Linked DNA regions of Homo sapiens: region 2 is linked to region 1. Evidence: fine-mapped expression QTL. A gene starts in region 1. The other region holds a variant in brackets. All regions are shown on one strand. Distances are between the middles of the regions. Region 1 holds the start of FAM228B (family with sequence similarity 228 member B). Region 2 overlaps ATAD2B (ATPase family AAA domain containing 2B).

What was found. PIP is the estimated chance that this variant, and not a neighbour inherited with it, causes the effect.
Region 2: its variant is fine-mapped to the expression of FAM228B in whole blood (INTERVAL, PIP above 0.99).

The regions. Positions count from the first base shown.
Region 1 is chr2:24,116,619-24,132,957 of GRCh38, reverse strand. FAM228B (family with sequence similarity 228 member B) reads right to left here and starts at 9,489. Exons shown (of 11, transcript NM_001145710.2): 1 at 9,425-9,489; 2 at 8,498-8,628. The coding sequence starts at 8,596. PFN4 (profilin family member 4) reads left to right here and starts at 9,624. Exons shown (of 5, transcript NM_199346.3): 1 at 9,624-9,840; 2 at 10,411-10,539; 3 at 11,658-11,795; 4 at 13,276-13,381. The coding sequence starts at 10,423. RefSeq lists an enhancer at 8,738-8,987 and a silencer at 9,058-9,557.
Region 2 is chr2:23,751,959-23,768,297 of GRCh38, reverse strand. ATAD2B (ATPase family AAA domain containing 2B) reads left to right here. Exons shown (of 28, transcript NM_017552.4): 23 at 2,670-2,792; 24 at 5,952-6,089; 25 at 10,197-10,880; 26 at 13,524-13,651; 27 at 13,991-14,119; 28 at 16,211-16,339. The coding sequence ends at 16,252. Among named protein-coding and RNA genes, the nearest start is that of ATAD2B, 170 kb to the left of the region's middle. The variant A/GTGTA (reference allele first, on the strand shown) is at 7,601.

The DNA.
Region 1 (16,339 bases):
CCAAATATCTGGCAAACTCTTGAACTGTATATGCATAAGGCAGACTCCATGTAGCCCAGCTTAAGATAAAAAAAGACTAAACCGTGACTTCATCTGCTGCCAACTTCAGGAAAGACAAGTTTGGAGATTGAGTTCAGCAAAGATAACTGCTTCCTAAAACAAAAGCTCAATATTCTTCAGAGGAATATAACAGAATCCAGACCCTCCACAATGTATCATTCATAATGTCCAAAATGTAATCTAGAATTACTAGATATATAAAGAAACAGAAAAATGTGATCCACACTTAAGAAAAAAACAATCAATGGAGACCAACTCTGAAATGACCCATATGTTGGAATCTAGAAGAAATGGATAAATTCCTGGACACATACACCCTCCCAAGACTAAACGAGGAAGAAGTCGAATCCCTGAATAGACTAATAACAAGTTCTGAAATTGAGGCAGTAATTAATAGCCTATCAACCAAAAAAAAAAAAAAAAAAAAAAAAAACAATCCCAGGACCAGAGGGATTCATGGCTGGATTCTACTAGAGATACAAAGAAGGGCTCGTACCATTCCTTCTGAAACTATTTCAAACAATTGAAAAGGAGGGACTCCTCCCTAACTCATTGTATGAGGCCATCATCCTGGTACCAAAATCTGGCAGAGATACAACAAAAAAAGGAAACTTCAGGCCAATATCCCTGTTGAAGTACAATGCGAAAATTGTCAATAAAATACTGGCAAACTGAATCCAGCAGCACATCAAAAAGCTTATCCACCACCATCAAGTTGGCTTCATCCCTGCGTTGCAAGGCTGGTTCCACATATGCAAATCAATAAACATAATCCATCACATAAACAGAATCAATGACAAAAACCACATGATCATCTCAATAGATACAGAAAAGGCCTTCAATAAAATTCAACATCCCTTCATGTTAAAAACTTTCAATAAACTAGGTATTGATGGAACATATCTCAAAATAATAAGAGCCATTTATGACAAACCCACAGCCAATATCATACTGAATGGGCAAAAGCTGGAAGCATTTCCTTTGAAAACCAGCACAAGACAAGGATGCCCTCTCTCACAATTCCTATTCAACATATTACTGGAAGTTCTGGCCAGGGCAATCAGGCAACAGAAATAAATAAAGTGTATTCAAATAGGAAGAGATGAAGTCAAATTGTCTCTGTTTGCAGATGACATGATTCTATATTTAGAAAACCCCATCATCTCAGGCCAAAAGCTCCTGAAGCTGATAAGCAACTTCAGCAAAGCCTCCGAATACAAAATCGATGTGCAAAAATCACAAACATTCCCTATACATCAACAACAGACAAGTAGAAAGCCAAATCATTAATAAACTCTCATTCACAATTGCTATAAAGAAAATAAAATACCTAGGAATATAGCTAACAAGGGATGTGAAGGACCTCTTCCAGGAGAACTACAAACCACTGCTCAAGGAAATAAGAGAGGACAGAAACAAACGGAAAAACATTCCATGCTCATGGATAGGAAGAATCAATATCATGAAAATGGCCACACTACCCAAAGTAATTTATAGATTCAATGGTATTCTCACCAATCTACCATTGACATTCTTCATAGAATTAGAGAAAACTACTTCAAATTTTATATGAAACCAAAAAAGAGCCCATATAGCCCAGACAATCCTAAGCAAAAAGAACAAAGCTGGAGGCATCACGCTACCTAACTTTAAACTATACTACAAGGCTACAGTAATCACAACAGCATGGTACTGGTACCAAAACAGACATATAGACCAATGGAACAGAATGGAGACCTCAGAAATAACACCATACATTTACAACCATCTGATCTTCGACAAACCAGACAAAAACAAGCAATGGGGAAAAGATTCCCCTTTAATAAAGAATTCCTTTAATAAAAGCATTCCCTATTTAATAAATGGTGCTGGGAAAACTGGCTAGCCATATGCAGAAAACTGAAACTGGACCCTTTCCTTACACTGTATACAAAAATTAACTCAAGATGGATTAAAGACTTAAATGTAAAACCCAAAACCATAAAAACCCTAGAAGAAAACATAGGCAATAACATTCAGGGCATGGGCAAAGACTTCATGACAAAAATGCCAAAAGCAATTGCAACAAAAGCCAAAATTGACAAATGTGATCTAATTAATCTAAAGAGCTTCTATACAGCAAAAGAAACTATCATTGGAATGAACAGGAAACCTACAGAATGGGAGAAAATTTTTGCAATCTACCCATCTGACAAAGCTCTAATATCCAGAACCTACAAAAAACAAACAAGTTTACAAGAAAAAAAAATCAAAAAGTGGGCAAAGGATATGAACAGATGCTTCTCAAAAGAAGACATTTACATGGCCAACAAACACATGAAAAAAATCTCAACATCACTGATCATTAGAGCAATGCAAATGAAAACCATAATGAGATACCATCTCATGCCAGTCAGAATAGTGATTATTAAAGTCAAGAAACAATACATGCTTGTGAGGCTGTGGAGAAACAGGAGCACTTTTACACTGTTAGTGGGAATGTAAATTAGTTCAACCATTGTGGAAGACAGTGTGGCGATTCCTCAAGGATATTAGAACCAAAAATACCATTTGACGCAGCAATCCCATTTCTGGGTATGTACCTAAAGGAATATAAATCATTCTACTATAAAGACATCTGCACATGTATGTTTATTGCAGCACTATTTACAATAGCAAAGATATGTAACCAACCCAAATGCCCATCAATGATAGACTGGATAAAGAAAATGTACATATACACCATGGAATACTATGCAGCCATAAAAGGGAATGAGATCATGTCCTTTGCAGGGACATAGATGAAGCTGAAAGCCATCATACTCAGCAAACTAACACAGGAACCAGAAAACCAAACACCGCATGTTCTCACTCATAACTGGGAGCTGAACAATGAGAACACATGGACCCAGGGAGGGGAACAACACACATCAGGGCCAGTCGAGGGCTGGGGGTGAGGGGAGGTGAGCATTAGGACAAACAGCTAATGCATGCAGGGCTTAAAACCTAGATGACAGGTTGATAGCAAACCACCATGGCATATATATACCTATGTAACAAACCTGCACGTCCTGCACTTGTATCTCAGAACTTAAAGTAAAATAAGAAAAATAAAAAGAAAATTATATTGACATGAAAATCTGAAAAAAAGAAGACAAGGATTTGAGGACAGTTATGATAGCTATGCTTAAAAATATGCTTATAATTAATGAATAGAAAATCTTAGCAGAGAATAGAAATGATAAAAAACCAAGTGGAAAATACAGTTCTTAAATTTGAGAAATAAACAAACCTCAATGGGTTAGTAGCAGATTAGAGATGACATAAAAATAGTCAGTGAACTTGAAGACAGACTATTAGAAATTACCCAATCTGAAAAAAAAGGAAGAATAAAGATTAGAAAATAATAAACAGAGTCATAGTGACCTATGAGACAATATCAAACGATTCAGCAAATGGATAGAGTTGCAGAAGTGAGGAGTAAAAGAATGGAGCAGGAAACAACTGTTTGAAAAAATAATGTCTGGATGAGAACTTTCACTTTTGAACAAGACAGAGTAGCAGGAAACAGACTTACTCTCCCACCTGAAACAACTAAAAAAAAAAAAAAAAGATAAAATAGATGAAACAACAGTTTCCAAGATATCGAACATCAGGCAAAGAAGAACAGTGGCCCCTGAGAAATAGAAAACAAACAGCCCAACTGTCTGCCTGAATTGAGGAGTGGGGATGGGAGTCTGGAGAGGCCAGAGCAGTTGGAGTTCATAGGTTAGAGTACTAGAGGGAGGAGAGCTACAAGAAAGATGGAGCTCTGGAGAACTGCAAAGGGTCAACCGCAGAGGTCCCCTTGAGTCTTCAGCTGATCGTAAACACTACATGCCCAAAGGAACAATGGGCAAAGAAACACCTGCAAGAATTAGGGAATCAATCCCTAGAGGTCACACAGTCCCAGGAGTGTTTGTTCCCTTTAGCATCAGCCAGAGGAAAAAAAAAAAAATTCCCATAGTTTGAAGTGCATAGAGTAGAGTATTTGGAGAGGTTTTGTATCAGTACTGAAACAAAATTGGCCCTACGGTAGATACTGCTGTGGTCCTGTCAAGCAAAACTCGGAGGCAAGACCTGAAAGAATCCTGCTGTGTCCAAGTAACTTAACTGAATCCAAGGGGAAAAATGAAAAATATTTATGGGAAATCTGTGCACTTGTACTTAAAAAAAAAAGAGTATTTATAGCAAATCAAAAATATCTAGTACTCAATATGGTTAAAATTCACAGTCTTGCATTTAATCAAAAATCATCAGGCATACAAAGAAATAGGAAAATTTAACCAATAATCACCAGGTATACAAAGAAATAGGAAAATTTAACCAATAATAAGAAGGAAAATTAACCAAAACTGCCCCCAAAATGACAAAGACACTATAATTATTAAACCAGGACATTAAAAGTTATTATTCCTGTAGTTCATAAGTTAGGGAAGCTAGAAGACTAGACATGTTGAGACAGAAAAAAATGTTTGAAAAAGAGCTAAGGGCCAGGCATGATGGCTCACACCTGTAATCCCAGTGCTTTGGGAGGCCAAGGTAGGAGGATCACTTGAGGCCAGGAGTTCAAGACCAGCCTGGGCTACATAGAGAGATCCCGTCTCAACAACAACAACAACAGCAACAAACCAACAAAAAACGAAACAAAAGAATCCAGATAAAACTTCTAGGGACACAAATTATACTTGAGATAAAAATATGCTAGGTAGGTTTATTAGCAGATTAGACATTACAGAAAGTTAGTGAACTTAAAAGCATAGCAACAGCAGCTTTCCAAAATGAAATGCACGGGGGAAAAACTGAAGAAAATTACCAGAATATCAGTGAGCTACAGGACAATTTCAAGCAGGTTATTGTACATACAGTTGTATTTCCCAAAAGATGGAGGGAATAGAAAAAATAATTTAAGAAATAGGCCAGGCACAGTGACTCATGCCCGTAATTCCATCACTTTGGGAGGCCAAGGCAGGCGGATCACTTGAGGCCAGGAGTTCAAGATCAGCTTGGCCAACATGGTGAAACCTCAACTCTTCTAAAAATACAAAAATTAGCTGGGCATGGTGGTGCACATCTGTAATCCCAGCTACTCGGGAGGCTTAGGCACAAGAATTGCTTGAACCCGGGAGGCGGAGGTTGGAGTAAGCTGAGATCATGCCACTGCACTGCAACCCGGGTGATAGAGTGAGACTCAGCTGAAAAAAAAAAAAGAAATAATGGCTGAAAATTTTCCAGATTTGTCAGAAACTATAAACCCACAGATACAAGAAGTTCAATGAACTCTGAGCAGTGGAGAAATTGTAACTTTCATACATTGCTATGAAAATTTAAAACGGTATCACTGCTGTGGGAAACAGTTCAGCAGTTCCTCAAAAAGTTAAACATATAGTTACCATATGACCCAACAAACAATTCCACTCCTAGGTTACATACCCAAGAGAACTGCAATCATGTTACCTAAAAAGTTACACAAAATGTTCATAGCAGCATTATTCATAACAGCAAAAAAACAGAAACAACCCAAAAGTCCATCCACTGATGAAGGGATAAACAAAATGTGATACTGAGACAATGGAATATTATTTGGTCATCAAAAGGAATAAAGTACTGCTTATGCTCTGACACGGACAAACCTTGAAAACATTATACTAAGTGAAAGCAGTCACTAAGGACCACATATTGTATGATACCATTTGTATAAAATGTCCAGAGTAGACAAATCTGTTTAGACAGGAAGTAGATCAGTGTTGCCAGGAGCCAGAGAGGGAGGGGAATGGGGGGTGACTGCTAAAAGGTGTGAAGTTTCTTTTTGGGGGTGATGAAATGTTCTGGAATTAGATAGTGGTGACAGTTGCACGGATTTGTGAATATACTAAAAAACACTGAAAATAAAAATTCTGAATTTAAAAAAAAATAAAAAACACTGAATTGTACACTTTAGAGTAGTGAATCTTGGCCGGGCGCCCGGTGGCTCACGCCTGTAATCCCAGCACTTTGGGAGGCCGAGGCGGGCAGATCATGAAGTCAGGAGATCGAGACCATCCTGGCTAACGTGGTGAAACCCCTCTCTACTTTTTTTTTGTAAAAATACAAAAACAAAAATTAGCCAGGTGTGGTGGCAGGCACCTGTAGTCCCAGCTACTTGGGAGGCTGAGGCAGGAGAATGGCGTGAACCGGGGAGGCAGAGTTTGCAGTGAGCTGAGATCACGCCACTGCGTTCCAGTCTGGGCGACAGAGCAAGACTCTGTCTCAAAAAAAAAAAAAAAAGTAGTGAATCTTATGGCATGTAAATTATATCTCAATAGGAAGAGTCCAACAGTAAGAATACAAACAACCCAACTTAAAATTGCCAATTTTAAAGTGGGCAAAAGATTTGAACAAACACTTTGCCAAAGAAGATAGATAAATGGCAAGTAAGACTTGAAAAGATGCTCATAATCAGTCATTAAGGAAATGCAAATTAAAACCACAATGAGATGTCACTATACATCTTTTTAAAATGTCTTGAGTTAAAAAGGCCATACAATAAATCAGTATAAATAAAACTATTCCAAATGTTGGCTAGATTATGAAACAACTGGAACTCTCACACACTACTAGTGGGAATGTAAAATAATTCAATGACTTTGGAAACTAGTTTGGCAGCTTCATAAAGTTAAATTCATTTACCATATGACCCAGTCACTCCACAACTAAATATCTACCCAAGAGAAATGAAAGCATACGTCCATACAAAGACACACACATGAATGTTCATAACAGCTTTATTTGTAATAGCCCCAAACTGGAATCAACCCAAATGTCCATAAACAGGATGAACAAATTGGGATATATCCAGATAAGGGAATAGCATTCAACCAAAAAAGGAATGAAGTATTGATACATACAACATGGGTGAGTGGCAAAATAATTATGATGAGTGAAAGAAGACAAACAGAAGGAAAAGAAATATATACTGTAAGATTCCATTTGTATACAATTTTTAAAATGCAAACTAGAGTGACAGAAAGCAAAGCAGGCTGGGCGCAGTGGCTCACACCTATAATCTCAGCACTTTGGGAGGCCGAGGCGGGCAGATCACTTGAGGTCAGGAGTTTGAGACCAGCCTGGCCAACATGGTGAAACCCCGTCTCTACTAAAAATCCAAAAAAATTAGCCAGGTGTGGTGGCGCAGGCCTGTAATCCTAGCTACTCAGGAGGCTGAGGTAGGAGGATCACTTGAACCCGGGAGGTAGAGGTTGCATTGAGCCGAGATCACGCCAGTGTTTTCCTGGCTGAGTGATAGAGCGAAAGAAAGAAAAGAAAAAGAAAAGGAAAGAGAGAGAAAGAATGAAAGAAAGAGAAAGAAAGAAAAGCAGTGGTGGGGGGATGTGAGGGAGGGATTACAACAGAATATTAAGGAAGCTTTGGGAGTACTGAATATGTCCACCATCTTGATTGTGGTGATGTTTTCGTGTGTATACATGTCAAAACTTACCAAGTTTGTACACTTTATTTGAGACAGGGTCTTATTCTGTCACCCAGGTGGGGATGCAGTGGCACAATCACAGCTCACTGCAGCCTCAAATTCCTGGGGTCAAGCAATCCTCCTGCCTCAGCCTCTCAAGCAGCTGGGACTATAGGTGTATGCTACCACACCTGGCTATTATTGTTCGTTCGTTTGTGGAGACAGGGTCTCAGTATATTGCTCTGCCTGGTCTAGATAGAACTCCTGGGCTCAAGCGACCCTCCCACCTCAGCCTCCCAACGTGCTGGGATTACAGGCATGAGGCACAGTGCCAGACACACACTTTAAATATATGCAGTTTACTGTATATCAATTACATCTTAATAAAGCTGTTTAGAAAAAAGAAACTACAATCTAAAAACAATATAACTGGCTGGGCGCAAGGGCTCACAGCTATAATCCCAGCATTTTGGAACACCACGGTAGGTGGATTGCTTGAGCTCAGGAGTTGGGGACCAGCCTAGGCGACACAGTGTAGAGATTTTTTGTATCTCTACAGAAAATACAAAAATTAGCCAGACATGGTGGCGTGCGCCTATACTTCCAGCTACTAGGGAGTGGAAGGATGGCTTGATTCCAGGAGGAAACATAGCAAGACCCTGTCTCAAATATAAATAAATAAATAAATACATCATATCAAAATTTGGGTGATGCAGCTAAGGCAGTACCTCAAGAGAAACTTATAGCTATGTTACATTTTAAAAGGTATATAATCAATGACCTATGATTCCACCTTAAGATGTTAGAAAAAAACAGCAAAGTGAATATACAAAGTTAGTAAAGTGAAGGGAATAATAAACAGAATGAAATAAAAACAAACAATAGAAAAAACAATATATTTAGCACAAGCCACTTCCTACTGCAACGATCCAAGTAAAAAAATCTCCAAATCCCACACTATTTGATATATACCTCCATAAAACAAAGGGGCTTGGGCTCCAACCATTCTTTTGAGCTCTTGAGCTTGGGAAGTGTGCCAGTTACCAGATCATCACTGTCTACATTTTTCATTGTGGTCACAAATAACAATGCCCCTGGAAAAACTAAAAATCATCTTATTTAGTATTGAACATTTCACAGTCATCTGATTTTCTCTTCTGTTTAATACCACCTGTGTCCTTGCACACACGCAAAATGGATTTTGAACACTAACCATCCAGTTTCCCTAACAAGAGGCCTTCACTACAGACTCCAGATGACGGCTTCAGAGCCAGCCTCCTTTATAAGCAGGCGAGATGCTCTTTGAAAGAATCCCCCGTCCCTTGGAATGGATTCCCACGTCCCCCTCCAAGGCAGCCCATTCCAGCCAGTGTGGCAGCTTCAGCCTGGCCTCTCGGAGTCCCATTTGCAACACTTTTCTGACTTTGGTGGCCTCGAGTGGGAAGAACTGCAACTTTCTGGCCACAGAAACACAGGCTGAGCTGCTTAGAGAAGGCAGGGAGGGGCTTTCGGTCATACTGCGCGAGTCTTCGAGCTCTGAGCGGCTCGAAGTCCTCCCCGAGGCACGGGTGCGACGGGGATGTCGTAGGCGTCCGCACCCGCTCTCGCTCATCGCGCCCACTCCCGGCCCTTCCTCCCACCCACTAGGCCGGGCGCCTGCGGCCTCCACGCCAGCCCCGGGCCGGGGGCCTCCCGCGCAGGCGCGTCGTGCGCGGGGACCGCCCGGCCTGGCGGGGAGGTCGCCGGCCGCGACAGGCACCTCTCTGCCCTCCCAAGGCCAGCAGGCCCGCGGCCGTCCTGCTACACACTCGGGCCCGGCCCGACGACCCCGGAGCCGTCCGACTGCGGCTGGAAGGGAGCCCGCCCGCGTCTGCGGAACGCGCGAATGTTGGCGCCCACCGTCTCCCGGACGCAGCGCCGCGCGAGCACTCCGCCCCCTGCGCCGCGGGTTCCACAGCGAGTCCGCGCGGGCGGTGCCGGGGCGGCGGAGGACGGCTTCAGGCCCAAAGGGGATTGGGCGGCGGCTCTAGGTGGCGGGTCTTGGTTTGCGGAAGGGGCTGGAGTCGCTGCTTCTCGGTGACCGGCGCGTGGCCCGGCCAATCCTGCCGCCGCCACCCACCCGCAACCGCGTCCGTTGACGGTCGGGTCCTTGGTCGCCGGGTCCTTGCGGGCACCACAGAGCGGGGTGGCGTCCGCTCCCTCGAGTCCTCGGTGCCAGGGAATTCACCGCTCACCACCCCCTGCCCCGCCTTGGGTCCTGCTCGGGGACCAAACCACTGGAAGGCAGTGGCGGGAAACGGGCGCCTGTGCCGGAGGTCCTGATGAGGGGGGTCCAAGGCTTGGGGACTTGTGCGGGAAATGTGGGTTTAAGTGCCTTCAAGGTGTTTTTAGTCCATTGGGATGTTGATCAGCGTTCATAGCTGGCGCTGATGCAGGTCACCGGGAAGGGAATGTGTGGGTTTATGGCCACGCATAATCTCTTTTAGTCGTGTTTAACTTAGCAGGGTAGCTCTCCATCCTGGCTGGGTTTTGTTTTTTGTTTTTATTTTTTATTTTACAGAGTTTTTCTCAGTGTGTAATGTTTGTTTTTAAATCGCAGATAATCCTGATGTAAACCATTGACATAGCCAGAAAATCACCAGGCTGTGATTTTCCAAACTCAGCTTCATAACCTATTCTGTGTGAGCTGTGATTTTTCTATGATTCTGTTTTCCTCTTTGGGTACTGGTGGGCCCTGAATGATGGACCACCGTTTTCACCCTGTACCTTTTCAAAGTACACTTGCTGATCTTAGAACTGTCTGCAGTGTCTTAAGGACATTTGTATTCACATGCCTTTTAAAAGCTAGCCAGAGTCAATGGCTTCAACTGCACTTTCCCTTTCAGAGTTGAGGGAACATGAGCCATTTGCAGAGCTTATTGTTAGACACCCTCTTGGGAACCAAGCATGTGGACAGTGCAGCCCTCATCAAAATCCAGGAGCGGAGCTTGTGTGTAGCATCACCAGGTTTCAATGTAAGAAAAAACAAGTTTGGACCTAAGACTTGATTTACTTATTATTTCTATTCTTCCAAAAAATGAAGCAGACATGACTTTTTTTTTTTTTTGAGACGGAATTTCACTCTTGTTGCTTAGCCTGGGATGCAATGGCATGATCTCAGCTCACTGCAACCTCCGCCTCTCAAGCGATTCTTGAGCCTTAGCCTCCCGAGTAGCTGGGATTACAGGAGTGCGCTACCAGGCCCGGCTAATTTTTGTATTTTTAGTAGAGATGGTGTTTTACCATGTTGGTCAGGCTAGTCTCAAACTCCTAACCTCAGGTGATCCACCTGCCTCGGCCTCCCAAAGTGCTGGGATTACAGGCATGAGCCACCGTGCCCAGCCCAGACATGACTTTTAAATGAACTTTTTCTGTAAAGAGCTACATAAATATTTTAGGTTTCTAGGCTTAGTCTTTTTACTGTTGATATAAAGGAATACCTGAAGCTGGGTAATTTATAAAGAAAAGAGGTTTATTTGGCTCACAGTTCTACTGCCTGGAAGACTGGTCATCTGTGAAAGCCTCAGGCTGCTTCCACTCATGGCAGAGGTGAAGGGGAGCCAGCATGTGCAGAGATCACAGTGGGGGAGAGGAAGCAAGAGAGAGCAAGTGGAGAGGTGCCAGGCTCTTTCTAAGAGCCAGCTCTCCTGGAACAAATACAGTGAAAACTCACAGCTTCCCCCAGCTCGCAGGGAGGGCATCAGTCTATTCATGATCCAAATACCTCCCATTAGGCCCCACCGAAAACGCTGGGAATCAGATTTCAACATGAGATTCAAACTATAGCACAGGGCCGTAGAGTCTCTGTCACAACCACTCAACTCTGCAATTGTAGAGGAAAAACAGCCATACATAAAAGAATGAATGTGACTGTGTTCCAATAAAATTTTATATTTATGGATACTGAAGTTTGAATTTCATATAATTTGTAAGTGTCACGAAGTGTTATTCTTTTGATTTTTTTTCCCCAACCATTTAAAAACATGAAAACCATTCTTAGCTTGCAGGCCATAAAAAACAGGTAGTGGGCTAAATTTGGCTGGCCACCAGCCATAGTTGGCTGACTCCTGCTCTAACCATGTAACCTCTCCAGGTAACGCCCAGTGATGTCCGAACACTGGTGAATGGATTTGCCAAGAACCCTTTGCAAGCCCGAAGAGAAGGACTGTATTTCAAGGGAAAAGATTACAGATGTGTCCGGGCAGATGAATATTCTCTTTATGCCAAAAATGTGAGTGCTCAAGATTTGAAGAGAGCTGAGTAAAAGAAAAGAATTTGCCTCCAAATTTCCTTGCTCTGCCTGATCCTTTCTGTAAAACAGATTAAATCCATTAATGTCTTGAGCCATTGTCTTGAGATAGCAGTCTAGTGCCAGGAAGACATATGTGAAAGAAAGTCCTATCAAGAGCCTGGTTTTGAGAAATGTTCATTCCAGAATCTATTAACTGAGCCTTGCCTGAACTCTTTCCAATACAGTCCCACCTTCATACTCTACATCCTCCTTTAAAAAAAAAAAAAAAAGAGATAATCATTTCTGTGCTTAAAACATTTCTCAGTGGCCAGGCACAGTGGCTCACACCTGTAATCCCAGCACTTTGGGAGGCTGAGGTCAGGAGTTCAAGACCAGCCTAGCTAACATGGTGAAACCCTGTTTCTACTAAAAATACAAGAAAATTAGCCAGGTGTGGTGCGCCCTTGTAATCCCAGCTACTTGGGAGGCTGAGGCAGGAGAATTTCTTGAATCCAGAAGGCAGAGGTTGCAGTGAGCCGAGATCGTGCCATTGCACTCCGGCTTGGGCAACAAGAGCGAAATTCCATCTCAAAAAAAAAATTTTAAAAAAAATCAGCTCTCTGTTGCTTATAAGGAATGAAAGAGATGAAAATCATTCATTGGATGCCCTATATTATGGGTTAGGCATGCTGCTTCATCCACATTATAAACTAAATAATCTCATTTTACAGATGAGGACACTGAGGCTTAACAAGGTTAAATAACCCTTACTCATGCAGCAGAAAAGGAGGCACTAGAATTCAAGCCCAGAGCTGTCCAATTCCAAAATGTACGACCTTTCCATTACATCAGTTTTGTTTTGTTTTGTTTTGTTTTGTTGTTGTTTTTTTTTTTGAGACGAGTTTCACTTTTGTCGCCCAGGCTGGAGTGCAATGGCACGATCTCGGCTCACTGCAACCTCCACCTCCTGGGTTCAAGAGATTCTCCTGCCTCAGCTTACCGAGTAGCTGGGGTTACAGGCGCCTGCCACCACGCCTGGCTAATTTTTGTATTTTTAGTAGAGATGGGGTTTCACCATGTTGGCCAGGCTGGTCTCAAACTTCCAACCTCAGGTGATCTTTCTGCCTTGGCCTCCCAAAGTGCTGGGATTACAGGCGGGAGCCACTGCACCCGGCCTACATCAGTTGTTCTAATTGGGATGGGGTATATGATAATCAATTGCAGAACTTTTTCAAAATCCATCTACCATTATTATAACAGTCTGAAACTTTTTGAGGAAAGGCAACTAAATTGGTGGAAAAGAGTGGACAGTCCAAAAACAGATATATAAACATATGGAAAATATATACGGAATATGTATATTCCATATATATTCCAAACATATGGAAATCAGGAAATGGTGAAAAACGTAGCTGGAGCATGACCACTGGTCCTGTGATTAGAACCAAGAGCAGAATATTCTCTTATATTCTTTATACAGGAGAACACTGGTGTGGTTGTCGTGAAGACCCATCTGTATCTTCTGGTAGCAACTTACACTGAGGGCATGTATCCTAGCATCTGTGTGGAAGCCACAGAGAGCCTGGGTAAGTTGGCCTCCTAGTTCCTGTCTTCATTCCCTATGTTAGTTGGGTCTTCCGACTACGAGTAACAGAGATCCAACTCAAACCAGCTAGGGCAGAAAGGAGGAATTTATTGGAAGGATGCTGAGGTTATTTACATAGCCACTGGAAGGACAGGGTGCAGCTGAGCCATGGGGAAGGTAGATTCAGGGACTGGAACACTGCTAGGATTCTGTCTTGACTTCTAAATGAGTCAGCTTTGTTCTGTCTCATAGCAAACTGTTTCCTTTCCTGGCTGATATCATGGCCAAGCCTCCCATAATACCCCTTAATTTCTCTTAGGACCCTGATTTGGCAAGTTTCAGGTCATATGGTTTACCCCTGTATCAGTCAGCTATGTAGGTGGGGCAGGATAGGGGAGGGGGGAGACAGCAGGGTAAAAAGGCAGAGATGTGGCTGCTGGGGGTCTACCCTATATAAAGAGACATTTTACAGGAAAAGGAATTACTGTGAGTCAGGCAGCCACTTTGTTGGTATATACTGCATTCCCCCTCCGTGTCTATACATTTTTGAATAAAGATCTCATAGAGAACTAGCTTGGGTATTATATCGGTGAGAGTTGAGCTTAATAAATGGTAAATTGTGTTTGTGTTTAGATTTTTCAAAATCTAAATTTAAATTTTAAAAAGTTTACTGGAGTTGCATAAACACTCCTTTGAAACAGAAGCCTCTAGTAACAAAAGCAGCCACTCATTCATTCATTCATTCATTCAACAAACATTCAGAGGTACTTACCATGTGCCCTGCACTATCCTAGATAAATTAGGGAAGCAGAGCTGGTTAAGATATAGCTTCTGCCTTCCATGCCTCTGTACATGCTGTTCTATCTGCCTAAAATATTTTCTGTTTCCTTCCTGTCCCTCACATCTATTCTGCAAATTCCTAATCATCATTAAAGAACCAAGTCAGATCTCAGGCTTCTATCCATTGTGGTATGTATTTTATGCATACCTTTATGATTATCCCCATTACAGTTCTTTGTTTATCTAGATTGTGAATCCCTGGAAGGCATTTGTCTTGTCTTAATCCTTCTTTTTCTCCATTACCTAACACAGTGTCTGATGTTGGGTAGGCAATTAGTACATGTTTGATGAATAAATCAATGAATTACTTCGGCCTAGCAGAGTCAGGGAAGGCGCCAGAGAGCTGAATCTTAAAGGGCCAATTGAGAAATTAAGTTTATCACAGAAACTATATACCTATGTACAGATATGCCTCATTTTATTGCATTTTGCATTATTGGACCCTTCCTGAACAGATGTCAGGATTTGAAGGAGGCTCCATTTCAGAATTGTAGGGCAGGAGCAGAGAGCAGAACAGAGACATAGAGAGCCAGGTTAATTATCTAATTAAAATAACCAGAATATGAGATTAGAAAGATGGGCAATTTGGCTGTCAGGAAGCCAGGCTCTTACCCTGTCAGCTAGGGCTCAGGGCTAATTCCCCAGAGGAGACCAGATAAATTGCCTGACTACTGTAATGTAGGTCATGTGGCTGGCACTAAAGGTTAGTATTCTTGCTTAGGGCCACAAAAAACTCCACAGACTCCAAAGAATGTGCCCTGGTTAGAAGTGCACTGCTGGCATCACGCCATTAATATCCCACTGCTCTGGGAAGGGACAGCTATCTTGGAAATGGTCGTATGATCAGGAAGGATGGACAAGGCTGATATCCACTCAGGAGCCAGTTGTCTTATGACTGACTTTTGTTTCCTTTACTCCTTTTTAAAAAAATATTTTTCTCTATCTAAAAAATTATACGTGATCATTGTAGAAAATTTGGGAAGTAAAGAATTACAGGCCAGATGGGGTGGCTCACACCTGTAATCTCAGCACTTTGGGAGGCCGAGGCAGGTGTATCACTTGAGGTCAGGAGTTCAGGACCAGCCTGGCCAACATGGCAAAATCCTGTCTTTACTAAAAATACAAAAATTAGCTGGGTGTGGTGGTGGGTACCTGTAATCCCTGCTGCTCAGGAGGCTGAGGCAGGAGAATCACCTGAACCCAGGAGGTGGAGGTTGCAGTGAGCCAAAATAGCGCCATTGCACTCCAGCCTGGGCGTCACAGCGAGACTCTGTCTCGAGAAAAAAAAAAAAAGAAGAAGAAGAACTATGACCATTTAAAAATTGTATTATGAAAGATTCTAGGGGCATGAATATTAATTAAAGAAAACCTTTAAATAGACAGGAAAAGGATGCTATGCTACTTCTGTCACACAAATTAATCAGGTTTGTGCAGTGGCTCACGCCTGTAATCCCACCACTTTGGGAGGCCAAGGTGGGTAGATCATTTGACGACAGGAGTTTGAGACCAGCCTGGAAAACATGGTGAAACCCCATTTCTACCAAAAATACATAAATTAGACCAGGTGTGGTGGTAGGTACCTGTAATCCCAGCTACTTGGGAGGCTGAAACAGGAGAATCACTTGAACGGAGAGGCAGAGGTTGCGGTGAGCCGAGATCGTGCCACTGCACTCCAGCCTGGATGACAGAGCGAGACTCTGTCTCAAAAAAAAAAAAAAAAAAATGCAGGATTGTTTTTAAAATAAATATATTAGAGAGTCACATTTGTAACATTGGTAAAATGTTAGCATCTTTAATTCTAGGTCCTTAGTTGTTTTTTGTTTATTTTGTGTTTCTGTTTTTCTTTTTCTTTTTTTTTTTTGAGACACAGTTTCATTCTATCAGCCAGGCTAAAGTGCAGTGGTGTGATATTGGCTCCCTGCAACTTCCAGGTTCAAGAGATTCAAGATTCAGCCTCCCAGGTTCAAGAGATTCTCCTGCCTCAGCCTCCCAAGTAGCTGGGACTACAGGTGCCTGCCACCACACAGGCTAATGTTTGTATTTTTAGTAGAGACGGGGTTTCACCATGTTAGCCAGGCTGGTCTCGAACTCCTGACTTCAAGTGATCTGCCCGCCTCAG
Region 2 (16,339 bases), 360 kb after region 1:
CCTCCCAAAGTGCTTTGACTACGGGCACGATCACTTCCCCTGGCCCATTGATTATCTTTATTGTTGTGGTAATGTTATGGATGTGTACTTACCTCAAAATGTATCAAATTGTATACTTTAAGTATGAGCAACTTATTATATGTCTATTATGCTTCAATAGATCTATTTTTAAACTTAGGGAAGTACAATATGTTAATAATGCAGATTACAGAATCATTGTGGTTTTTGTTCATAAAGAGAATTGTTGAGACACATATTCATGTGCTTACATGGTATCTCCATTGGGATATTTTTTAGGCATCTCCAAACTGAAATGCCTGAAGCTGAACTCTTTGAGATTACTCTCTAACTTCTTTTCCTCCTTTCCTCTCTATTCTGTTTTTTTTTTTGTTTGTTTTTTGTTTGTTTTTGCATCTTTATAAATAGTATGTCCGTCTCCCCATTTTTTATGCAAGAAGCTAGGAAATCATCTTTGATATTTATGTTACCCTCTTATCTACTTTATCACCAAATTGTGTCATTGAGAGCACATTTCAAATCTGTAATCTTGTCTTTCACCACCACCACCACCATTACCCCAGTTCAAGTCATCATCCTCTCTCACTAAAATAAAGCCTAGTGACTATGCTCCCTGGTGTTATTCTTGACTCCCCTCAATCCAGTGATCAGAAAACAACCACAGCAGATCTTTTCAATGATTTTCATTGCTCTTAGGATACAATCTGAAATCCTTTCAATATGATCAGTTTCTCTTTGCCTCTTGCTTATTATGTTCTGACTACTGTTATAAATAGTTTCAGTACCTCAAAAAGCACTTGAATATAAAATTTTCTTTTTAATTCTCAGCAAGGCAAGTTTTTCTATAGAAGGGTGCACCCTTACAGATGGAGTAATGGTGGGCGCCCACTTGGACAAGGGAGGGGAAGGGTTTATTATCCCTGATGCATGTGGCCCCCCACTGCTGTGTCCTTCTCCTGTTGGCTAGGGTTAGACCACACAGGCTAAACTAATTCCGATTGGCTAATTTAAAGAGAATGACGAGGTAAGTGTTTTGGCGGGAAAAATGGTTATGACAGAGCAGGTAATAGGAATGAGTTAGGGTGGAGTAGGTAATCGGAATGAGTCAGGGTGGAGCAGGTAATTGGAATGAGTCAGGGTAGAGCAGGTAATCGAAAAAGGTTGCTTTACGAGGAAGTTAAGTTTAAAAGTAGAAGGCAAAGAATTGAACATACTGACATATTGATTCTTTGAAAAGAAATTTAGAACTCATAACACTACACTGGCTGCATTTCAGTTTCTTGAAATCTCCAAACTCTTTACAGCAGGATTTTCTCACATGGTATTTTCTGAACCTGCACTAGTTGTTTTTTTTTTTTTCCCCCCTTACTCTTTCAGTAGCTACTCCAGTCTGTGCTTCAAGTGTCAGTTTAAATGCCTGTTCTTCAGAGAGTCTTCTTCCTGACTTGCTCAATCTAAATTGGAACCCACACCAGTACCCTGTAGGTTTTCTTCATAGCTGTTTTTCAGGGTGTTTTGCTTTTGGGTTTTTTCTTTTTTGGAGGGAGGAGGTGTTAATTTGGATGTATGAGAGATGATTTGTTCCTGTAGTGGTCTGAAAAAGTCCTTGAAAGTTGATATCATGTATGTTTTGTTCACTGCTGTGGGTGGCCACCATCCAGCTTTCCCTGGTGCAGTCGACAACATTTGTTGAGTGAATGTTTAGAGAAAATGTGTTGGAAGTAAATATCAGTGGTGCCTTTGAGTGGTGCATGTTTGGTTTTGTAAGATTACCACAATGAGCCATAATAACTTTCAAATCAGAAAAGTTATAAAGTGTCTCTGTAACTTTGTCTATACTGTTTGCCCTTACTAGAGAGGAAAAAGCAAATGTTGTTTTGCAACTCTGGATTCTTGCTCTTGATACTGTTAGAATATTAGTTACCTTGATATATTACTTGCCTTTTCATATTTCTGAGTTGCACAGATCTAGGGGGCACTGTTTATATTGTATTGTTTATGAATGGGAACTTCTGGATTAGTGTGAAGCAGAGGCTCCTCTTTTAGTACCATTTTTAGGCATAGTTTACCTGGAACCATGTTTATGCTTCTCTCCTGGATCTACCTACAATGTATACACCATCTTGTGCCCTTTAGCTTAGAAAGTCTTTCTGTATTTCTCTGTTTTTGTCACATTTAAAAAAAAATAAGTCACCTTTAAAATATATTGTATTCTTTAGCATAGTTTTGACCAATGTCAACTTAGGAGAAATTTAAGATTTTTTTGAATTCCTAATATTAATCTCTGACAACTCTGGGGCTGGGCATTTGGTGAATATCCTCTAAATACTTTTTAAATTTTTACTGAAAATCACATATTTCTGTTTTCAGAAATTTGAAACCATGTATCTTTTTCTTGTAATTCTCCAGACTGCTTCAGAAATGGTAATAGGTTTAGTCCTTTGAGGTTCTTAAAGTATAATTTTCAGAGAATTACTAACTTGACTGAGTAGCTTAGTATATTTATTTTTTTACCCATACTTTAAATAAACTTTTTCTCACCTAGCAATGCTTTTTATAATTTTGTTTGTATTCTTTTACTTTTTAAGATGTCCTTTGTTAATGTTATTTTATTTGTTTCTATAATAAATATATACCAACTTTTTTAACAGATAAAATAATTAGGCACAGGGCTTGTACCCTGAAGGACACTGCACATGCTATCATTGCAGCTGAATTAGATCCAGAATTTAATAAACTTTGTGAGGAAATTAAGGAAGCAAGAATAAAAAGAGGTAAGTTGTAGAAATAAACTTGGTACTGAAGCCTAGTGTGCTCTGTTCAGGCCAAGAGTACTTGAACGCTGTTTCTTTAGGATTGCTGGTATTATGAAAGTAATGTATTTAATGTATTTATTTAATTTCTGATACTAATGTGTTATGTAAATTCTCAAAGATATTTTACAACTTTACCTACTGTGAAAGTTTTAGTGTGATAGTGTGTATTACAGAAATAAAGTGTTTCTTATTGAAATTTGTTTTGTAGGAGTATATCTTTTTTAAGAATTGATTTCTAAATGGATTTAGATATTAGATATGAAAAGGTTTTATTTTTCATCAGTTTACTTTCTGGTACTTTAAAAACATGTTTAGGTATACTGTTTTTCCCACCCTAGTGAAATTTATATGCAATTTTGTTATTAGAAACACAGAATTAGCAATTGTGGTTTGTCAATTCAGTTTATAATCTTGTCCTTGAGGAACTCACATTTTAGTAGGAGAGAGAGAAATGTAAAACCAATCAAGTACAGTGTGGTGTATGCACTGGTTGAAGCATGTTCAGAGCACAGAGATGAGACCTCCCAGTAGGGAACCCAGCATTTTGATCAGAGTAAGGAGTGAATATAGAAGTGTTCTCTCTAATGGACTAGGGAGGCAGTGATAGAGGAGGAGGAGGTGTATTGCACACAGAGAAAACAATAGCATATGTAAAGGCACAGAGGTGTGTTAAACTGGTATTGCTAAAGAAATACAGAATGCTGGAAATAGGGCTCAAGAGGTGCGGGGTCTAGGACACAAAAATTATGAAGAAACTTTTCTTCTACCTTTTTAGAGAGCTCTTCCCTGACCACCTAATCTGATAGAGGCTTTGGTAGCATTTGGCATTATATTATTTGTTTTTTGATCGTGTCCTCCTTATTTAGGATATCAGCACTTTGAATGTCTTGTTTATATCTCTGCTCCAGTCCCTAGAACCCCATCTGGTATAAAACAGGTTTTCGGTAAATATTTGAGTAAATCAATGCCATGCTAAGGAGCTTGTGATTTATCTTGTAGATCAGTGTTTTCAAAAATGTCTGCCTATTACCCACTTCAGCTTAGACCTATGAATTAGATTCTCTGAGAATATTAAGGCCAAGAAATCTTTATTTGAACAAACTATCCAAGAGTTTTTATGTACACTAAAGTTTGATAGCCATAGGCAATAGAAATCATTGAAGGATTTTAAGCAGTGAAATGAATTGGTCGAATTGCCTTGGCGGGAAGAAGTAACATGGTTTCAATGTGCCAGGGTAGGAAGATGAAAGATCAGTTTAAAAGCTGTTGGAGCCCATTTGAAAATGGTTTGGCAATTTCTAAAAAATTAAACATGGATTTACTGTATGACCCAGTGATTCTACTCTTAGGAATCTACCCAAGAAAAATGAAAATATATGTCCACATAAACATTTGTATGTTCATAGGAGCATTGTTTATAATAACCACAAACTGGAAACAACCCAGATGTCTGTCAGCTGGTGAATTGGTAAAGAAAACATAGGATACCCATACAAGCGCATACTACTTAGTAATAAAAGGGAACAAAGTACTGTTACACAGTACAACATGGACGAACTTCAAAAACATGCTGGCTGAACATGGTGGCTCACGCCTGTAATCCCAGCATTTTGGGTGGCAGAGGTTGGAGGATCGCTTGAGCCCAGGAGTTTGAGACCAGCCTGGGCAACATGGCAAGATACCATCTCTACAAAAAAGTGAGAAATATTAGCTAGGCGTGGTGGTGTACACTTGTGATCCCAGCCATTTGGAAGGCCGAGTTGGGAGGATTGCTTGAGCCCAGAAGGTTGAGGCTGCAGTGAGCCATGTTCATGCCACTGCAGTCCACCCTGGGTGACAGAGCAAGATGTTGTCTCAACAAAAAAAACCCCAAAACATTATGCTAAGTAAAAATAGCCAGACCCAGAAGACTACATATTGTATGATTTCTTTTATATAAAATGTCCAGAAAAGGCAAGTCTATAGAGACAAAAAGTGGAGTAGTCATTGCCTGGGACAGTTATCCAAAATTGGATTGCTGTGGTGATTTTACAATTCTATACATCTACTAAAAACTATTTATTGTACACTTAAAACAGGTGATTTTTATGTTATATAAATTGTATCTCAGTAAAGCTGTTGGGGAACAAAAACCTGTTGGAGTAGTCCAGGGTTTTAATTAATGAAGTAGGAAGGGAGTTAGAAGAGATTAATATAAGTGAGATGTAGCCGCAGGGATGGAGAGCACTGTGAAGTGAAGGAAGAATAAAAACTGGCTGCCATATTACTGGTTGAGTGACTTAGTAGATACTAATACTCCCAATCTAGATAGGGAATCTATAAGAACAAACTGTTTTGTTTTGTAGGGAAAGATAAACCAGTTATCTTTAATTTGATCTATCTTTAGGAAATTCAGTTGGAGATATGAAGTAAGGAGTTGTATATATGGATCAGAAGTTGTATATCTGGATCAGAGATGTTTGGGCTAAAGATACAGATTTGAGAATTATTATATAATAGTAATTGAACCTGAACACAATGATACTTCGCTGGGGAATGTGTAGATTAGAGTAAGAAGAAAAGTGGTTACAGAGAGAACCTGGAGAAAAACCAACTTAAGGACCACATAGAAGAAATAAATCTCTAGTGAAGAAAATTAAGATAGAATGATTAGTCTTAGGAATATAATGCAGGACAACCAAACTGACTGCAGTGTGGTGCGACAGGAAGCAAATAGCATTTTGAAACAGTTCACGGGAATGGGGTTTAGTAGCCCAGTAGACTGTTGTACATTCTAAGATGGCAGAGGTCATTATTTTTGGATAATATATAATCTTATTGTTCCACAGTCATAATAATGTAAAATGTGCCTCTTTGTGAATTAAAATGAATAAAAATAGGGCCCCTTTGGGGATTAAGTGTAAACATGGCCTGCCAGATTGTTTTATTTTTATGATTTTATATCTAAGTTTCTTACCCATCTTAAAACAAAAGACACTGCTTTCATTGGAACTGCAAACTGCCCTAGTATAATTAATGACTTTAAAACTCAGTTTTGTATTTGAGATTTTTTTAAAAACCTTTTGGTTTATGTAGCTGGGAATATTTAAAGAGGTATTGCTTATCTTCTGCTTGCAGGCTTATCAGTAACATCAGAACAAATAAATCCTCATAGTACTGGAGCTCGGAAGACAGAAACTAGAGTCGAAGAGGCATTTCGGCACAAACAAAGAAATCCAATGGATGTGTGGCACAACTCTGCAAATAAATGTGCATGTGAGTATTTCAGCTCATGTTATCCAGTAGTGAGAACAACTGAGAATGATGTAGATATGTTAGGAATTGGGTACAAAACAAAGTGCCGCTCTTTTCCCATAGCTCTTTTAATCTCTTTTCAGAGGTGAAGAAGAGCTTGTGAGGTAAATGCTGAATCAGAAATATATTTCTTTAACTTTATTTGTTATTTTCTATCCCTATTCAATATTATTTGCTATGACAATTGAACTAGGCTTGAATATTTTCAGTTTTAAACTTTGGTTTTTGGATAGCCATGTGGAGCCAGTAGAATTTTTATATGCCCCTGTCCTTATCCTCCACTCCTTGTACACTATGCAGGATGTTCTCTTTAGGGTGGGAAATGGACACTCCCGCATGTGGGTGTGTCTGATCTGGCAACAGGAAGTTGATTTTTCTGAGAGACTATTTTGTGTTCAGTTTGAAAAATTGGCACAGCCTTCTTTTCTTTGTAGTTTTTGTGAGATGTATTTAAAGGGAAAATTGGGAGTTTTTTTGTACTCATTCATGTTGATCTATAACATTTCCAAAAGTCAAATGTTAATAAACACTGCGTCTTTCTAATAGAGTTCTTCTGTTTCACTAAAGATAGCCTTCCTTGGAAGATACATGCTGTTTTTCTGGTATAAAGGTGATAATCCAGGTTAAGTATCCCTTATCCAAAATGCTTGGGACCCAGAAGTGTTTTGGATTTTGGATTTTTTTTGGATTTTGGAATATTTGCATTGTACTTACTGGTTCTGCATCCCTAATCCAAAAATCAGATATCTGAAATGCTCCAACGAGCAGTTACTTTGAACGACATGTCAGTGCTCAAAAAGTGTTGGATTTTGGATACTCAACCTGAACTACTTTGTCAGTAAAGCTAGCTATAATATGTTGTTTCACCAGTGGCATTGAATTTGAATGAATAAACTATACCCACCTTTTTAAAGCTTGTCCCCTTTTGGTAAGTGGCATTTGTATATGAGAAAGTTTGAGAAAGGACTCGATGATGCCGTGAAACTGATTAAGCCTATTTGGCCTAGTTGTATTTCAGATCATGACTTGGATTGTGTAATGTAGTACTCTAATTTAAACTTTGAAATTCTTTACATTCTATGCATCTGCTACAAATATTTATGAATGAAAATACATTGACTATTCACTTGAAGAAGTTTTAAGTGCCTTTAAATATTTTAAAAACTTTTTGAATCTACAAATATGAGTTTTGTTTTCTCTTACCAGTAGATGGCATATGCGACCCATAATTTTTCTGTTTTACATTAACTTAAATAAGAAATCTGAATGTCCCTAAGGCGTAGTTGCTTTCCTAAGGCCTTAGTTTTGGAAACAAACTCAGTGATGCTATAAAAATTGACTCTAAAGATCGTGTCTCTAAATGGACTTTTCACACAGAGCACCCCGATGAAGGAAGTGGTGTGTGTGTGTGTGTGTGTATGTGTGTGTGTGTGTGTATATGTGTGTGTGTGTGTGTGTGTGTGTGTGTGTAT[A/GTGTA]TATATAAATTTATTTATTTTTTTTTTTTTTCTTGAGACAGAGTCTCTCTCTGTTGCCCAGGCTGGAGTGCAGTGGCTCAGTCTTGGCTCGCTGCAACCTCCGCCTCCTCAGGTTCAAGCAATTCTCCCACCTCAGCTTCCCAAGCTACTGGGACGACAGGCGCCTGCCAGCACACCTGGCTCATTTTTTTGTATTTTTAGTAGAGATGGGGTTTTACCATGTTGGTCAGGTAGGTCTCGAACTCCTGACTTCAAGTGATCCGTCAGCCTCGGCCTCCCAAAGTGCTGGAAGTACAGGTGTGAGCCACCATGCCTAGCTGGAAATGGTATATTAAGCATTAGGTCCACAAATACTAATATATACTCTTGCCACATGCCAGGTACTGTGAAGATACATCAGTGACTAAAACAAAAATCTCTTCTTGTGGAGCTAATGTGGTCTGTTTCTCTTATTTTGCCAAAATTATACCAACCATTAGAAATAATTATATAAGGAAGAGAAAAATACCTCCAGTCCTACTTCCCAAAGATTAAGACCATTTTCTCTTACCGTATTAGCCAGGTCTATCCTGCAGTAACTTGCTTCAGCAGGGCTCCCAGCCTTTGCTTATGTACTGCATGTCAGGTAGTTGAGGTGACTCCTGATTGAGCAGAGTTCAGCTTCATTTTGCTCTAGTTTCATGGCTTAGGAAAGAAAAAGGGAACCTATTGTACTTTCAGTTACATGGTTGCAGAATAAGAGAGGTTATGGTGTCAGGAATGGCCTGTCAGGTAGTAAAAGCCTAATAGCGCTAACTTGCAGAGTCAGAGCAAGCTGAATGCTTTTTATTTTTTATATGGACTAGATTAGTTTTTCTTATAGCTAATGGGATGTTTACAAATGCCCATCACCTGAGCCTGTGTACCAGATTTTAACAGTAGATTAATACAGAAATTTTCTTCTCTATGCTAATTACCCTGTAACTTTAAATTATATAAATAGAAATTAATAGGGGAAAAGAATGAAGAGTTAGTGCTAACAGGATTACAGTTTTGAAGGAAAAATACATGTTGAGCCAAATGACTCAATAACCTGAATTTTGGAGATGATTTCAGAAACCTTTAGGAGATATATTCTTAGGTAAGAAAGAAGAGTAATATTTATAACTAAATTTATCTATTTCTTGTGAATTTACAGAGATGCAGCAGGAATTAAAGATGAAAGGATTAAATAAGTATGTAAATACACTACACTGTTGATAGATTCTAAATTCATATTAAGCAGTGTGAATATAAGAAACAAGGGTTGTCATTAAAAGACCATATTCCTTTCTGTCTCTATAAAGCAATTTTTAAACTACAGATTAAACAGCCTACAGTTAGTGATTTCATATTTATATTTTCTTTAAAAAATATCTTTGCCCAGGAAGCTTTTCAGCTTTGATGTATTAAACATATATATTGTCTTTTTTTAAGTTAAAATTATTATGTTCATAACCACAGAAAAAATGAATATTTTTATTCTGATACTTTCAACAAACTAGTATTTAGAATTTGGGGTTAGATACCAGAAGTGATTCAGCTCTAGCATAAGTGGTTTGCTTTAATAATTTTTGTATTTAAGTGTTCTGAAGAACACTTAACTGTATTATGCAAGTGTCCCAAATTATAAAAGTTAACTTTTTGTTTATTTAAGGGACAATGAGGTAGACTTGCTTAACCATCTACCTCAATTTGATACATATGTGAGAAATTAAAAATTCCAGGGTCCATTAATACCTAGAGGCCCTAGCTGCCTACTCATAAAGCTCATGATAGTTTCTAGCATCTAAGAGTATAGTCCTTACAACTTTTGTAGGCCTCCCTTTTCACATAAGTGACCAAGTATTTATTTTCAGTGTTTTGTTTATGTTGTTGTTGTTGCCTTGATAGCAGAGGGCTTAGTTTTCCTACATATTCTCAAATAACTTTGCAAGAAATTGATGCTGCTGGGTGAACTGTTTGTGCTAGAAGAGATTAACAGTTGGCTCACCAAATTGTCCAAATAACCTTCATAAGGCATCTATCCATGGTCATACTTAACTTTGGGTGATTCCTTTTTCTGGAAGGAGAGGTTTCTTTGTGAGGATACCCTTAACTGTTCTGTTATGCTATATTGAATCATGTCTTTATTTTCTTTCATGATTTAGGAGCTACCTTTTGCTAGTAAAACATCCACCTTCCTGGTGGAAATCCAGGGCTTTGGCCCCAAACTTTCTGGCAGCCTGGTAATGTGGTCATTCTTTAAATGTGTATATTATATGCGTGGCTTTTGGATGTTGAAAATTAGGAACAGTAGTAAAGTAGGATCTAGGATAGTAGAAAAGATTAGTGCTGAATAAACTCATACAGGAAATACATTAAAAAATGTTTTATTCTGCAGAGTTCATCCCTGACTTCATATCCATTCCATTTGTAGGTTGCAAGGATTAGTCAGCATGAATGTCAAGAGCTAAGTAGTTTTTGTGTGTTACATCAGCATGGGTTTACTTTCTTTTGGGTCCTGTTTAATAAACATATGTAAAATTGGTATTGCATTCCAAGTTCTACATATCTTTTTTCCTTCCTTGTAAAACAGTTCGGGTTCGGAGAAAATCAAGGCGGAGATCACAGTGGGGTAAAGGAATTATTAAGAAAAGGAAAGTTAATAATTTAAAAAAAGATGAAGAAGACACCAAATTTGCAGACTATGAGAACCATACGGAGGACAGGAAATTATTAGAGAATGGAGAGTTTGAGGTAAGCACTGACTGCCATGAGGAAAATGGAGAAGAGACTGGAGACTTATCTATGACCAATGATGAATCATCCTGTGACATCATGGACTTGGACCAGGGGCAGAGGCTTAACAATGGAGCAGGCACAAAAGAGAACTTTGCATCTACTGAGGAGGAAAGTTCAAATGAATCTCTACTGGTCAACAGCAGCAGTTCCTTAAACCCGGAGCAGACCTCCAGGAAAGAGACTTTCCTTAAAGGAAATTGTCTAAATGGTGAGGCTTCCACTGACAGTTTTGAAGGAATACCAGTTCTGGAATGTCAGAATGGCAAGCTTGAAGTAGTTTCTTTCTGTGATAGTGGAGATAAATGTAGTTCTGAACAAAAGATTCTTCTGGAGGACCAGTCAAAAGAAAAACCAGAAACTTCGACTGAAAATCATGGAGATGATCTTGAGAAACTAGAGGCACTGGAATGTAGCAATAATGAGAAGTTAGAACCTGGCTCTGATGTGGAGGTTAAAGATGCAGAACTGGATAAAGAAGGTAGAGCTAATATTTGAAAAATCTTCTGAAGGTTTAAACTCCAGAGTTAATTCGTTGTGTATTTTATCTGGTTCCCAGTAGTAATAGTTGATGAATAATTATACCCCTCTGAGAATATGTTAAAGTTTTCATCCTATTCTCTAGAAAAGCACACATGTGTGCACGTACACACACACACAGAGGCATGCACCAAATTTTGCTTTAAGTTTCAGAGGGTGTATCGTTTCGAGTGCATTGCTTTACTGGCCGCTTACTCTTCTGCCTCCTGCCTGATTATCACCCCTAGCCTCAGGGATTTATGACTGAAAGCTGAGTAAATCCACAGGTGTTAAGAAGATGGAATTCCAAGAAGAATTATTGGCATGGGCTGGGTGTGGGCAGAGAAGACTTAGTGATAATAGCAGTATGATATATTCGGAAGAGTAATATAGACCTAGATTAAATTACCACTCTTGTTCATTATAATCATGTGACTTTCAGCTCATTATTTACACTCTCCAAGCCTATTTATTCATCTAGGAAATTCAACTTCAGAATGGTGTTGCAAGGATTAAATAAGTCGTGTATTTTAATTGCCTCTCGTGGTAACTGGCACATACTAAGGTATATTCATTCCAGGAAGTCATTGTTAATTGAATCCAAGGGCTGTTCAGTCTAAAAGCCTTCATTGCTTTATAAGTCCAATAGTGGGGGAAAGAAGCAGAGCAATCATTGTCAAGTTTACCTTGTTCTCAGGGAATCAGAGTACTCTCCCAGCTTCTGACTTCTTATGGCTACATGATTCATTTAAGAAGCAGCAGAAAGAGGGAGTTAAGGGTTTCTAGCCTGTCTTTATCATTATTCTTTAGCCCATAGCAGGGTCTGGGATGAGTTGATATCTACCCTGCTCAATATACATTTCCTTCCTGGATAGGTACTCTTATAGGAGGCTATCCTAAAATTATATTATTTTCTCTAAATTGTGTGGAGTGGAGAACACAGCTTCAGCCTGGGATTTGGGCTATGTGGGAAAATTTTTTTTTTTTCTGCCAGTATTTTAAGTCCTTTAGCAGAGTTAGGAAGCAGGAAAATATTATTCAAAGTCTAAGAATTCCTTTAATGGATAAAGAGAAATTTACTGTTCTTAAATGCTACCTGTTAAACATTTGTCTTATTCTTCAATATTTAATACTAAAATAGTTTTCAGAGCAGTATTCATTCTGGGCTATCAGATAGACAGAACTTTAAAAATATGTTAAAGCTAGGGTTAAGTAATGAATATAACAGCATGGGAAAAGTGGAGAAGGAATCTGGTATGAGGCCGAATGGGTGGGGATAGAGGAGTCTATTTTAATGCTGATTTCTATGAGATTTCCATAAGCGTGCTGAAAAAGGCTTAAATTAATATTGTGTTCAGTTGGTGATCTAAACACTATAAAGATAATTGTTGTGTAAAAGTTTGACCTGAAGCTTTCATTTGGAATTATCAGGACAGTATCCTAATCTGAGTTTTCAGGCCTCTAGAAGTCCATGGATGTAGTAATGAGGATCAATATGATTTTAACAAAACTCCTAGCATATGGTAATTGAACTATGAAGTCTTTCACATTAAAAGCAGCCTGAAATATAAAATTTCTCTGATATATCATGATACATGTTTTTGAAGGCAATACTTTGGTTCGTTTGCTGTTTGTTTTATAAAGCAGGCATTGAGAAGGAGGATGAGTTTAAAGACTTGGGAGTAAGAAATAAGAGGACTAATGTAGGATGGAGGCGGGTCCCTGCATTGAGACACTTAATAAATATGTTCTCCTTAGTGTCCCTGACATGGGCCACATCCTGTATGAAATTCTGAAACAGTCCAAGTTTGTCTTTGTGTTCCTTCCCCTCACTCATCCTCCTCTTAAGAGTAGTCCTACTTAGGGGAGCACAGGGCTCCATGGTCTACCCACCCTTTGTACCCCTCAGAATGCCTGGGTTCGTGAAATTATGCTTAGCCACCTTAAAATTTCTGTTTGTTTAGTGTGGCTGGTTTCAGCAAAATGTGAGGAGGAAAGTAATTAGATTACACTAATTTACTCTAAGGTAGGAAAGAACACCAGCCCTATTACACTTTTAATGGGTTTATATTTTTAAGAAAAAAATGTTAAACTCTGAATCAATTTCTAATAGAATTTTAGGCAGTGTAACAGACAAGAAATTTCAGGCAATGCTGAAGGGAATGTTTTAGGTTGGGAGGCAAATGTGTAGACAGGTGGGCCCCACTTTTGTTAGTATCTGCTTTTCTAGGTTGCTTCCCTTCTTGTGGTTCTGAAAGCTCCCAGTTGTAAAATGGTAGCTGTCATAGAGTGAAGGCTGTTTGTTAAGTCAGTGCTTAGAGGTGAAGATTGCTTTTATCTTCCTTTTAGTGGATATGCTTATTAGGTGATACTTTAGTATGACTTGGCTTTTTAAGTTGTAGTTTAGTTTTCTTTAATTTGGGTTACTTAGTCTTACCAATAAAAAATCTACCACATTGGGTTGCTTTAAAAAAAATCACTTAAGAATACACCCTTCCTCATTCCAAAAGGGATTTGTGTGGTAGGTAAAAGAATTTATAACTGCTTAAGACTGGTTTTTCTTAACTTTTACTTGCTGCAGTGTATTTTTTTGTCTCAATTATAGGTGCTTCTAAAGTAAAGAAATACCGTAAATTAATTTTAGAGCAGGCAAAAACGACAAGCCTGGAACTGGTTCCAGAAGAGCCATCTGAGCCTGTGCCTCCTCTTATAGTTGATCGTGAGAGATTGAAGGTAAGCTTAGCTATTCCCAGTCAAGTTTTAAATGAATGGACGGAGATTTGAATGTGTTTGTAGGCAGTTGAGTAAAAGTAGTTTTCCTGCTTTAACCCTGAAATATAAATGCCTCAGAGCTCCTAGTAAAAAAGAGTTATGTGTATTTTAAGGAGTTGAAAGATACGGGAGTAGTCCAAGATATTCTAAGGGAATGATTTTAAGCCCTCAAATCTTTTAATTTCATGTTCACTGTTACATCCTCGCTTTATGGTGTTTATTGACTAGCCATTTGAATATACAATTTCAGTTTGACCAGTGAAATCAAATTACATTTTATTCTTTTCTGTTTTTTCTTAGAAATTGCTTGATTTGTTGGTGGATAAAAGCAACAATCTGGCAGTTGATCAGCTTGAGAGATTATATTCTCTTCTTAGTCAGTGTATCTACCGTCATCGTAAAGATTATGACAAATCACAACTTGTAGAGGTAAGTGTTTAGTTTATCTGTAGAATAAACAAATACTTGATTTTACTTGTTCCAAAGAAAAGAGGAAAAAAAGTTATTTTGCCTACATCTATGTCTTTTACCAAGTAGCTGAAGAATGTTTTGAAGATTTAAGACAAAAATCATTAAGAGTTACAGTTTGAAGAATAAAGCCTTTCTGTACCATTTTGTCTCTGGAAAGAAGTAATCTGGGGTTCCTTTTTTTTGTCAAAACACAGAAATCCATGGTTCTAGGGTGGTAAATATACAGAAATAGTATGTCACAATTCTCTCCCTACTTGCTTATAACTGACGTGCCAATTGAGCCTGTCACTTGGGCTTGTCGGATGTGGTCATGGCCCCACACTCCTTATCACTGCTTCCTAGGTAGCCACTGCTGATATAAAGGCGTTGGCATGGGTAGTGAGACCTATTTGCCATTAATGGTTGGAAGATAACTCAAAAGTCATCTTATTTTGGTCAAATCTAGTCCTATAAATTAGCCATATGAAGGAGCGACTGTCCTTTTGCTGAGATACTTTTAGAGATGAGACATTCCCTTTCTAGACAACTCTAAACCAAGGGAAATTCTTCCTGTATAAATATGAGCTTCTATCTTTGTTTATATAATTTCCATCATTAAACCACACTTCTGCCTTTTCAGGTCATCTGAGCAAATGTAATCACTCATCTACCCACAAAATGGCTAAATGACTTAATTCAACTCCCTTTGTTGATTTGCCTGTTAGTTTGTTTATCTGGTGGTCTATCTATTAAATGTTTATTGAGTACCTGCAGTGCCAGATGCTGTGCTGGGTGTTTGGAATGCAAAAAATGAGTAAGACAAAGTCTCTGCTCTCAAAGAATATTTTTAGTATATTAAAGATTTATATGTAAAGGATATAGTTATTTTTCATGTGTAATTTTCTTTTCTTATTTGGCAATATATGATAAAACATTTAGCAGGAGTGATTTTTGTTGGCCACATGGAAGAACTTGTTGATCGGATGATGATCTGTTAATACAGCCTGTTAGTTTTGCAGAGATGTAGAATAGAATTTCTTTGGAGCTGTTTAAAGGGAAGGAAAAAATGCAAGTGTCTTAGATGTATTTGACATTTGCCCACCTGAATAAAATGTGCGGGGTAGAGTTATTCACATTTTTTTTAATTCTAGAACTTCTTTGTTCATATGGTTGCAGTTTTATTAGCTTGAATGCATTAAATACTCCTCACCAGTGAAACATCTCAGTGTGGAATCCTAATAATCTAGAGGCCTAGTTTAGGGAGGGAAGGGATTGATAACAGAATCAGCAGTGAGTGGCTTTCATGGTGGTAGTGATGGAAGCCACTCATTCTGGCTCTTTTTTAACCCTGTCTTTTCAGCTCTGGTTGGAGTGAATAGAAGTGGGAACACAATGCATTCTGCTTTTTGGCATAAGTTTCACTATACTGAATGCATTCATTTTGCTTTGGGAGTTAGTGAAATATAATGAGGAAGGAAGGGCTCAGTCTCTGGAGTGAGGCTGCCTGTATTCAAATCCTGACTGCCACCTGTTAGCTGTCAAATTATTTATCCCCTCTGTGCCTCAGTTTCTTTATCTGTAAAATGGACCTGATAGTAATACGTTTGTTCAATCTTCAATGTTATGGGAGTTAAAACTATATATATAAATTATATATATATGCATACATATAAATATAAATATTTACTTATATTTATGTATTTTATATATAGAAATCTCTTAGTAAATATCTGGCATAATAACTTACTCATTAAGTGTTGCTATCATCATCCTTATATTCATATTACTCATATCATACCTCATACTGATATTACTGGCATAATAAGTTAGTTATTTGTTGAGTGTGACCATCATCATCATCCTTATTGGCCTAAATATAAAATAGGAGGTACTTGGAAGTATCTAGGGGAGATAGTCTTAATTACCTATGGTATTATAATCAGGAAAATATTCAAAGTTTAACCTGTATCTCAAATTCATTCCCTAAAAATTTAAAGTGAATTCTTCCGTAATGAGGAACACTTTTGTCTTTCCCTTAATAGATAACATGCATTTTTTTTCCTTTTATAGGAGATGGAAAGAACAGTTCATATGTTTGAGACATTCCTATGAACTTTTCAAGATGAGTGGTTTATCCTCTCCAATCTGCTCCTCACAGAGCAGTCTTCTGAGCCATTCAATTTCAAATTGCACCAATTA